Homo sapiens: one gene and its partners. The protein of the gene in region 1 purifies or fractionates together with the protein of each later gene. This does not show direct contact. Each region holds a gene or a part of one and is shown on either strand. Other genes may lie near its edges.

Region 1 (2,580 bases):
GAGGTATGTGAGGCATGACCCAAGTGATTGTCCACAGCAGCCCTGCTCCTGCCTTCAGCCTCCAGAGTCTCTCTCCCTCTGAGGGCCTGGCCTCTGGTGCCCTTTTGGGTTGAAAGGCTGGATTGGGGAGGGGATACAGTAGAGAGTGGTGGGAGGCAATAGATCATTACTGAAATAGTCAAAATGGAGGAGTCGTCTGTCAAACAGGGAGAAGACAGGTACAGAGTTGGCCTGTTCTGGGCCCTTTGACATTGACTTCAAGTTCATCTAGTGCAGCTCTTTTATTCGAAGAAGGAATGTGGAAACTGAGGCCCAGAAATTAAGTGACCTGTCCGGGGTCACAAGGCAGGGCCAGGAGTTCTGCTACAAGCCTTTACTTCCACATACATCTTTTGAAGACTTTTGACATTCAGAAAGGAAGGCCACTGATGTGTTGGAGAGAGTACCCAGGGGACCCGCAGAGTGTTCGGACCCCAGGGGAGACAACCTGTTCATTGTTGAACATCCCCACCTCCCACCTCAATATCTGCCCCATCATTGGACAAATGCAAATAATCTAGACTATGGCGGGCTATTACTTTGTGGTGAGAATGTGGAGACATGGAGGTGTCAGGAGATTTGGGGAATTCTCACTTTAATACGGGCTTCTCTGTTTACCAGCTTTGTGAGTTGGGCAAGATATCTAACTTTTCTGGGCCTCAGTTTCCTTTTGTTTAAAAGTGGATAATAGAAGTAACCAACCTGAGAGAGTTGTTTTGACAATTAAATGTGTTTAGAACCTGGCACAGAATAAGCTCTTAAAATGTCATCTTTCATTGTATGGCTGAAATAGAACATTGAAGGGAGGTGGGAATGGGGGAGAGCGGGGCATCTGCAGGAAGCCAGGGAACTATCCTGCTGTAAGGGTTCATCTTTTAGCAGAAACAAAACAAGGTCTGATCAGCAGGGATATGGCCTTGTTCCTTTTTTTGAGATTGAGTCTGGCTCTGTTGCCCAGGCTGGAGTGCAGTGGCACGATCTTGGCTCACTGCAACCTCCGCCCCCTGGGTTCAAGTGACTCTCCTGCCTCAGCCTCCCAAGTAGCTAGGACTACAGGTGCTGCTACCACGCCTGGCTAAGTTTTGTGCTTTTAGTAGAGACAGGGTTTCACCATGTTGGCCAGGCTGGTCTTGAACTCCTGGCCTCAAGTGATCTGCCTACCTCGGCCTCCCAAAATGCTGGGATTACAGAAGTGAGCCACTGCATCTGGAGGCCTTGTTTCTTCTTCATCCTTTTCTTTTAATTTTTTGTAGAGACAGGGTCTCGCTATGTTGCCCAGGCTGGTCTTGAACTCCTGGCCTCAAGTGATCCTCCCACCTCAGCCTCCCAAAGTGCTGGGATTACAGGCATGAGTCACCAGGCCCGCCCTCTTCTTCATCCTTAAATCCCCAGCTCACAGCTCAAGGTCTGGGACACAGTTGATGCCCAATAAATGTTTGCTGCCTACCTACAGCTGCCTGAGGCTGAACGTTATGACCCTTCCAGAAGCACAGTGGGTCTCTCTCTTGTCCAGGTGCTGGTGAGAAAGTCAAGTACAGTACCTATCATGGAAAAACCCTATGTCTGGGGGAATGGGTGTGAGAAGGGGGTGGGCTTCCCCAGGAGGAGAAAAGGCAGATGCTCCCTACTCCCTTGAGCCTATCGGGAGCTTCTAAGAAGTTGGTTAACCTCGACCAATAAACTAAATCTATTACAAGAGACTCAAAACCAAGCTGAGCCTCCACCTGCTCTGCCTCCATTCCTCTTGCCTGGTGGTAGGAGTAGTTCAAGGAAAGCAGGTGCAAGCTATGCACCTAAAGTTCCCTCTGATCCTGTCCTTGCTGTTGTGGCCAAGCCCTGGGATTCATTTTCCGGTCCCACTGCCCCAGCCTGGGGGAATGGTTCTGCTGGGCTGCTTCCCTCCTGGTTCTGCTTTTTGTGTATATTTGCAGGGAAGATGTTAACACTTCCTAACAAGTCTTTGTGTTCATCTAATCTCTGCTGTTTAACCTTTGACTCTCCCCTATTATCAGTGTCTGCCACCTTTGCTGGCCAGACCAAAGGCCCCAGGAAGAGCCCTCAGCCTGAGCTGGCTAGGAAGAGGATGAGGCAGGCATTCCATCCCCGGTTTGCAGGCAGATGGATCGCCTTTCCCTGGGGCAGAGCTTTGGAAAATAAAGCAACTTGCAATGCCATTAGGATCCCCCAGCCCCCACTCCTTTTGAACTGTCAGCCTTTAAGTAAACATTCTTTTCCTGCCATGGGTCCCAGTACCTTGGTGGGGAGTGGGGAACCTGGGAGGAGAGGGGCCCCGAGAGCCTCTGTTGAACGGAGGGATTTGGGCAGGGAGGACGGGGGCAGAAGTGCTGCATTGATGTCAACTCTCTGAGTCCCCAGGGCATAGGGGCTTTTGAAGTGGACTCAGGGTAGCTGTCACCACAAGGACCAGGCCCCTCTGAAGTACTAAAAGCCCCATCCTCCCCAGGCCTCTCACTTGAGTTTGTTTGTACCTGCCTGAGGTGTTTCCCTTCACAGCCCATACAACCTCTGCAGCAGAAAGTG
Region 2 (3,659 bases), on another chromosome or scaffold:
AGGGGAGGGATAGCATTAGGAGATATACCTAATGTTAAATGACGAGTTAATGAGTGCAGCACACCAACATGGCACATGTATGCATATGTAACTAACCTGCACATTGTGCACATGTACCCTAAAACTTAAAGTATAATAATAATAAAATAAAAAAAAGGTTTTTTTTTTTTTGAGACTGAGTTTCACTCTTGTTGCCCAGGCTGGAGTGCAATGGTGCGATCTCAGCTCACTGCAACCTCTGCCTCCTGGGTTCAAGCGATTCTTATTGCCTCAGCCTTCTGAGTAGCTGGGATTACAGGCACACGCCACCACACCTAGCTAATTTTTTTGTATTTTTAGTAGAGATGGAGTTTCACCATGTTGGCCAGGCTGGTCTCAAACTCGTGACCTCAAGTAATCTGCCCATCTCGGCCTCCCAATTGCTGGAACTACAGGTGTGAGCCTCCGTGCCCAGCTGCCCATATTCTTTTTATCACGTCATTCTGTTTATTTCCCTCCCAGCACCAATAACCATGTGAAATCCTTCTGTGAGCATGTTTTCTTGTCTATCATGGCTGCTTTGGCAGAATGTAAGTCCAGGGGACCAGGGTCTCATCTGTGTTGCTTTTGTGTCTTTTCCAAGCAAAGGGCATAGTTGGCACTCACAGGATGTTTACTGGACAAATGCATGAATAAGAACATGGCGACACAGATCTGGAGGAAGTATGCGGTGGCTGAGGAAGTGGTCAGGGAGGGACTAAGGATGAACTTGACTTCCTTGGAATTTGTGTATCTCACATGAGGGTTAGGTATTAAAATTTCCATGTAAGGGAAAAGTTATCCTTTAAAGTCCTTTAAATCACTTTGAAACTACCAGAACTGGGACCTTGGGAAGTTCAAAAAGTGAGAATTAACTTCTTTGCTTTTCTGAGCATTTGGGCTGTGGGGTCTTCCCAGCTATGGGGCAGTGGAAGGCAAGGCTGTTGAATGGAGAATAGGGTAACAGGGTCAACAAGGGGATTTTATTGTCTTTTTGGAGGAGCCAAGTAGAGATGGTTGGCTTTATGTAAATGTACTTATGATGTAATGTGGGTATGATGTAACATGCATTTGATAGAATGTCTGTAAGAGGTAATGGGCATATGAAATAGCATGCATATGATGTAATGCACATATAATGTGACATGCATATGGTGTAATGTGCATATGATATGTGCATATAACATGCATACAACATAACAGATATATAGTGTAACATGCATATGATATGATGTGCATATGATATAACATGCATACGATGTAACAGGTATATAGTGTAACATGCATATGATGTAATGGGCACATGGTATAATGTGCATAAGATATAATTTGCATATGAGATAACATGCATACGATGTAACAGGTATATAGTGTAACATGCACATGATGTAATGGGCACGTGGTGTAATGTGTGTATGATGTAATGGTGTGTATGGTGTAACTCACCTGGCTTTCTCATGGCTTACCCATTGTCTCTGCTCTTCTGTTCCAACTCAGGAGGCAACCTTTCCAAACAAGACTGGACCATCCAGTGGCCCACGACAGAGACGGGGAAGGAGAACAATCCCGTGTGCCCCCCGGAGCCCACCCCGTGGATCCGCACCCATCTCTCCCAGAGCCCCAGGGTCCCGTCCAAGTGCGTCCAGCACTATTGTCACACCAGCCCCACTCCCGGGGCCCCTGTGTACACCCACGTGGACAGGCTTACCGTGGACGCCTACCCGGGCTTGTGCCCGCCCCCGCCACTGGAGTCGGGCCACCGTTCCCTGCCCCCATCGCCCCGGCAGCGGCACGCGGTCCGCACCCCGCCGCGCACCCCCAACATCGTCACCACCGTGACCCCGCCGGGCACGCCGCCCATGAGGAAGAAGAACAAGCTGAAGCCCCCGGGGACCCCACCGCCCTCCTCCCGAAAACTGATACACTTGATCCCGGGATTCACCGCGCTGCATCGGAGCAAATCCCACGAGTTCCAGCTGGGGCACCGCGTGGACGAGGCCCACACGCCCAAGTGAGTGCGATCGGTGGGTGCCCTGGGGCGGTCGAAACCCGGCCTGCGAGGGGCTGCCCCTTGGTCCCAGGAACTGCCCAGGTCAAGGAAACCGGGAACAGACTTGCGTTCCAGACTCTGGTTGAATGAAAAATGGCTTTTCACAGAGGGTTCTGAGCAAATGAATAGAACAGAATTTCCCAGAATTGGCCGTTTAAAAAATACGATTAATATCCTATGGCCTAGGGGCTAAATCTGATACCCGGCCTGATTTTGTAAATAAAAGGTATTGGAACACGCCCATGATCATTCCTTTATGTGTTGCCTATGGCTGCTTTTGTGTGACAATGGCAGAGTGAGAATAGCCCACAAAGCTGAAAGTATTTACCATCTGGCTTTTTACTGAAAACGTTTGCCAACCCCTGCAGAGTCTAGCCTAGTGCCGCTCCTAGAAATAGGATATGAGGCATATATTAACCTTCAACTTTCTAGTAGTCACATTAAAAAGAATGAAAAGGAACAAGTGATATTAATGATCATAATACATCATTCAACCCAATATATCAAAATTATAATATCTTAACAAAGAATCAATGTAAAATATCATTACAGAGATATTTTGCATTTTTTAAAATACAAAGTCTTTGAAATTGAATGTGTATTTTATATCCACGGCTCATCTCAGTTGAAGGTGGTAGGAAGCAGGACACGTTGGGGAAATTGACAGAGGACCCCTTTGGGGGAGAGAGCAGGTGTGTGATGTAGGGTGAGACTCGAGGATTAGGCAGGTTGCTGTGCTATTCACAGTAGCCAAAAAGTAGAAACAACCTGTGTCCATCAGTAGACAAATGAGTAAACACAGTGTGGTCTATCTATACAATGCAATATTATTCAGGCTTAAAAAGGAAGAAACTTCTTTTTTTTTGAGACGGAGTCTAGCTCTGTTGCCCAGGCTGGAGCAGTGGTGGGATGTCAGCTCACTGCAACCTCTGCCTCCCAGGTTCAAGTGATTCTCCTGCCTCAGCCTCCCAAGTAGCTGGGACTACAGGCCTGTGCCACCACGCCTGGCTAATTTTTTGTAGTTTTTGTAGAGATAGGGTTTCACCATGTTGACCAGACTGGTCTTGAACTTCTGACCTCAAATGATCTGCCCGCCTTGGCCTCCCAAAGTGCTGGGATTACAGGCATGAGCCATCATGCCCGACCTGGGAGGAACTTCTGATATATGCTACAACATGAGTGAACCTTGAAGACAGCATGCTAAGAGTAAAATATGCCAGACACATAATGACAAATACTGTATAATTCCACCAATATGAGATACCTAGAGTAGACAATTTATAGAGGCAGAAAGTAGAACGGTGGATGCCAGGGCTGAGGGGAGGGAGAATGGGGAGTTGTTATTTATTGGATATAGACTTTGCATTTGGGATGATGAAAACATTCTGGAGATGGATGGTGGTGATGGTTGTACAACAATGCAAATGTAATTAGTACCATTGAACTGTACACTTCAAAATGGTTAAGATGGTAAATTTTATATTATGTATATTTTATCACCATTTTAAAAAGGCAGGATTCTGTAAGTGAAGGGTTGGCACACTTTTTCTGTACAGGGGCAGATAGTAAATACTTTAGGCTTTGCAGACCA
Region 3 (3,659 bases), about 74 Mb from region 1:
TTGGGAGGTTTTGTTAAAATTTCATGATCTGATGAGGAGAATATAGTAAAGATGATCCTAGCATTATTGTTAGGGAAAATAAAGAGTTTCTGTTAACTGGCTTTATTTGTTTTCATTGATTGTATGTCTATTTTTAAAATTTTATTGTGAAACAATTTCAGACTCAAAGATTTGTAAAAATAGCACAAATAATTCTTATGTATCCTATTAAATTACTCCAGATGTTAATGTTTGTCACATTTGCTTTATCATTCTCTCTCTACACACAGTATTCTTTTTTAAAAAAATGAGAGTAGATTGTAGACATGATGTCTTCAACGTCTGCATACTTTAATGTGTATTTCTTAAATGAACATAGATACATTTTATTGTCTATACACAGATTTTATCAGTTGTCCCATTAATGTCCCATATAGCAAAAGACAAATAATTGTTTCGGGTCCAGGATCATACACTGATTTTAGTTATTTCTCTTTAGCCTCTTTTATTTCATTTAATTAATGAATTAATTTATTTTCGAGACAGAGTCTAGCTCTGTCGCTCAGGCTGAGTGCAGTGGCACCAACTCAGCTCAGTGCAACCTCCACTTTTCAGGTTCAAGTGATCCTCCTGCCTCAGCCACCCAAGTAGCTGGGACTACAGGCACATGCCACTGCGCCTGGCTAATTTTTTTTTGTATTTTTGATAGAGACGGGGTTTACCATGTTGGCCAGGCTGGTCTTGAGCTCCTGACCTCAAGTGATCTACCCACCTCGGCCTCCCAAAGTACTGGGATTGCAGGTGTGAGCCACCGCGTCGAGCCTCTTCAGCCTCTTTTAATCAGCAATTCTTCAGTCTTTATTTGCCTTTTCAGGGCCTTGACATTTTTGAAGAGTAAATAATTATTTTGTAGAATGTCTCTCAATTTGTGTATGTCCAGTATGTCCTTAACGGTTAGATTCAGGTTATGCAGTTTTGGCAGCAATTCCACAGAAGTGTTTTTCAGAACATAGTGTCAGTGAAGTTATTATTTTTCCCTTCATAACTAATATATTTCTTGTAGAGAGATACATTGAGACTGTATAGGTATCCTCCTTCTTACACTTTTTGCCCTCCTGTTGTAGCATCCATTGATAATTCTTGCCTGTGACAAGTGATAAGGACAGTATATGATCTTTTCATTCCAACTGTGATGGTTATCAAATGGGGATTTTTTTAAAATGCCATCACTCTGTCTATGTATCTTGTTTGGAATTCTGTAAGTAAGAGCTCTTTTTTTTTCTTTTTTTGTGAGGCAGTGTCTCACTGTGTTGCCCAGGCTGGCCTGAGACTCCTGGGCTCAAGTGATCCTCCTGCCTCAGCCTCCCAAGTAGCTGGAACTACAGCCATGTACCACCATGCCCAGCTCAGGAGGAGCTCATGTTTGTTTGTTTCTTTTTCTTCATATGAACTCATGGTGCCTCTAAATTTTCAATAAATTAGGCATTACTTAGCTTTTGCATGATATTAAGATTTACAGATTTACTCTTATTTGTGTCATAGGAAAGGGAATCATTTAAAACACGAATTCAAAATCCATTGTAATTTGGCTTTGTTGTATTATAATAATAATTATTATTATTTAATTTTATTTATTTATTTTTAGACACAGTCTTGCTCTGTTGCCCAGGCTGGAGTGAAGTGGCACAACCTTGGCTCACTGCAGCCTCCACCTCCCCATTCAAGTGATTCTGGTGCCTCAGCCTCCTGTGTAGCTGGGACTACAGGCATGCACCACCACACCTGGCTAATTTTTGTATTTTTAGTAGAGATGGGTTTTGCTATGTTGGCCAGTCTGGTCTTGAACTCCTGGCCTCAAGTGATCCACCCACCTTGGGCCTCCCAAAGTGTTGAGATTATAGGTGTGAGCCACTGTGCCCATACTGGTGTATTATTTACTCCTATAAAAAATTACTTAGTAGTAAAACCTTATTTTGGTCAGAACCTGCCTGAGTACGTATTGGTATTGGCTAGCCAGGAGGAGAGCAGTAGCAACTGGCAGGAAAATAAACTTGCCTAAAGTTAAAATTTTACTGAAGGAATGAACATACATATAATATTAACTGTCTTCATTACAAACCCAAATGGAATTTGGGGACTTGTGGCATGACAAATCGTGGGTTGTCTTTATTACTAAAAAGGCTTTGTCTTCTGCAAAGACAAATACTAAGATTATAGTATGCTGGTGAAAATATATGTAATTTGTTCCCCAAATAGGCCCTAGATCTTGAATATGTTGAACAAAATATCTTTTACATTGAAGCATCAGATTACTTTCAGCCTTAGGTAATAACATATATATATATATATATTTTTTTTTTTTTTTTGGAGACAAGAGTCTCGCTGTGTTGCCCAGGCCGGAGTGCAGTGGTGCATGATCTCAGCTCACTGCAATCTCCGCCTCCCAGGTTCAAGTGATTCTTCTGCCTCAGCCTCCCAAGAAGCTGGGATTGCAGGTGTGTGCCACCATGCCTTGCTAATTTTTATGTTTTTAGTAGAGATGGGGTTTTACTATATTGGCCAGGCTGGTCTTGAACTCCTGACCTCAAGTGATCCACCCGCCTCAGCCTCCCAAAGTGCTAGGATTACAGGTGTGAGCCACCACGCCCAGCCCACACATGAGTTTTAAACATAAAAACAATTACTTAATGGCCTTGTGAAAATTAGTGTTTTATGAAAATTGGTATTTTACCCCACAGTAAAATAGTAGTAAGGAAAGTGTATTGTTACCTTTTAGTAACTTAGTGAGACACTTAAGTTTCTGTCTTGCATAAAATACTCTTTTAAGATAATTGTTGGATTTGGGATTTGCAGATGGTACTATAAAGTTAGCATTCTTCTTTCTTGGCAATTAGCTAAAAACAACAAAGAGAGGGAAAAACTGACACACAAACCCAGCATTCCACTAAACTAGAAGACAGTTAAAAACCCCAAGCCACAAAATAGGTGGAAATGTTGCCAGGAGCAGTGGCCATCAGGCTGGCTGCATGTGGGAAGAAGTAGGTAGGATGCCGTGGCTGTGGAGCTCAGAGACAACAAGAAACACCCATGAAACTGCAAGGCCCCCCTGAGGTATAAAACCTAAACCCCTTGTTTACAAAAGTGAAGTGGGTTTCTTCAGCTCAAGGCAGGAGCTTTCCTGCACCTGGTTTAATTCTAAGAAGTCGGGGAAATGAAGCCAAACAAGGAGTCACATAAACAAGCCATTTTTGCAGGAAGTAATATGTGTCTATCTCTATAGCAGTTGGGGAGGAGATGACTGCATTGTGAAAAACCTCCAGACTGCCTGTCTGCATTGGCTGTTGAGAAGTAAAATGCTAAACTGTCTCTTAGGTAAATCTCTGAATCACGAAAAAGTTGTCAGTCCAGAACTGGAGGCACTCTGGCCTTCTGCATAAACCTCCTACAAATATCAGGTTCTGGACAACCAGCACTTCTTCAGAGATGAATAATCAAAAGGAATTCATTAAGCTTGACTGCCACAAATGTTTGGAAATAAAAAAGGAAGAAAGAAACAGAAAAACAAAGGACAGATGAAGAACAGTAACCTAAAATATTGCCATAAAGAAGATGAATATTGTGATCAAACATTTTGCCATGAGTTTAGAAAACTTAATGAAGTATTTACTGCTGAGAGCACA

Evidence for each region.
Region 2: the proteins of DPCD (region 1) and KSR2 purify together in Homo sapiens (co-immunoprecipitation; one large-scale study listed by IntAct). This does not show direct contact.
Region 3: the proteins of DPCD (region 1) and RAB18 purify together in Homo sapiens (co-immunoprecipitation; one large-scale study listed by IntAct). This does not show direct contact.

What each region holds. Positions count from the first base shown.
Region 1 is NC_000010.11:101,605,210-101,607,789, forward strand, and holds part of DPCD (protein DPCD), read left to right. Parts: coding exon of another isoform or gene 1-3; intron 4-2,580. UniProt on the Homo sapiens protein: May play a role in the formation or function of ciliated cells.
Region 2 is NC_000012.12:117,759,381-117,763,039, reverse strand, and holds part of KSR2 (kinase suppressor of Ras 2), read left to right. Parts: intron 1-1,515; coding exon 1,516-2,029; intron 2,030-3,659. UniProt on the Homo sapiens protein: Location-regulated scaffold connecting MEK to RAF. Has very low protein kinase activity and can phosphorylate MAP2K1 at several Ser and Thr residues with very low efficiency (in vitro).
Region 3 is NC_000010.11:27,510,704-27,514,362, forward strand, and holds part of RAB18 (ras-related protein Rab-18), read left to right. Parts: intron 1-3,659. UniProt on the Homo sapiens protein: The small GTPases Rab are key regulators of intracellular membrane trafficking, from the formation of transport vesicles to their fusion with membranes.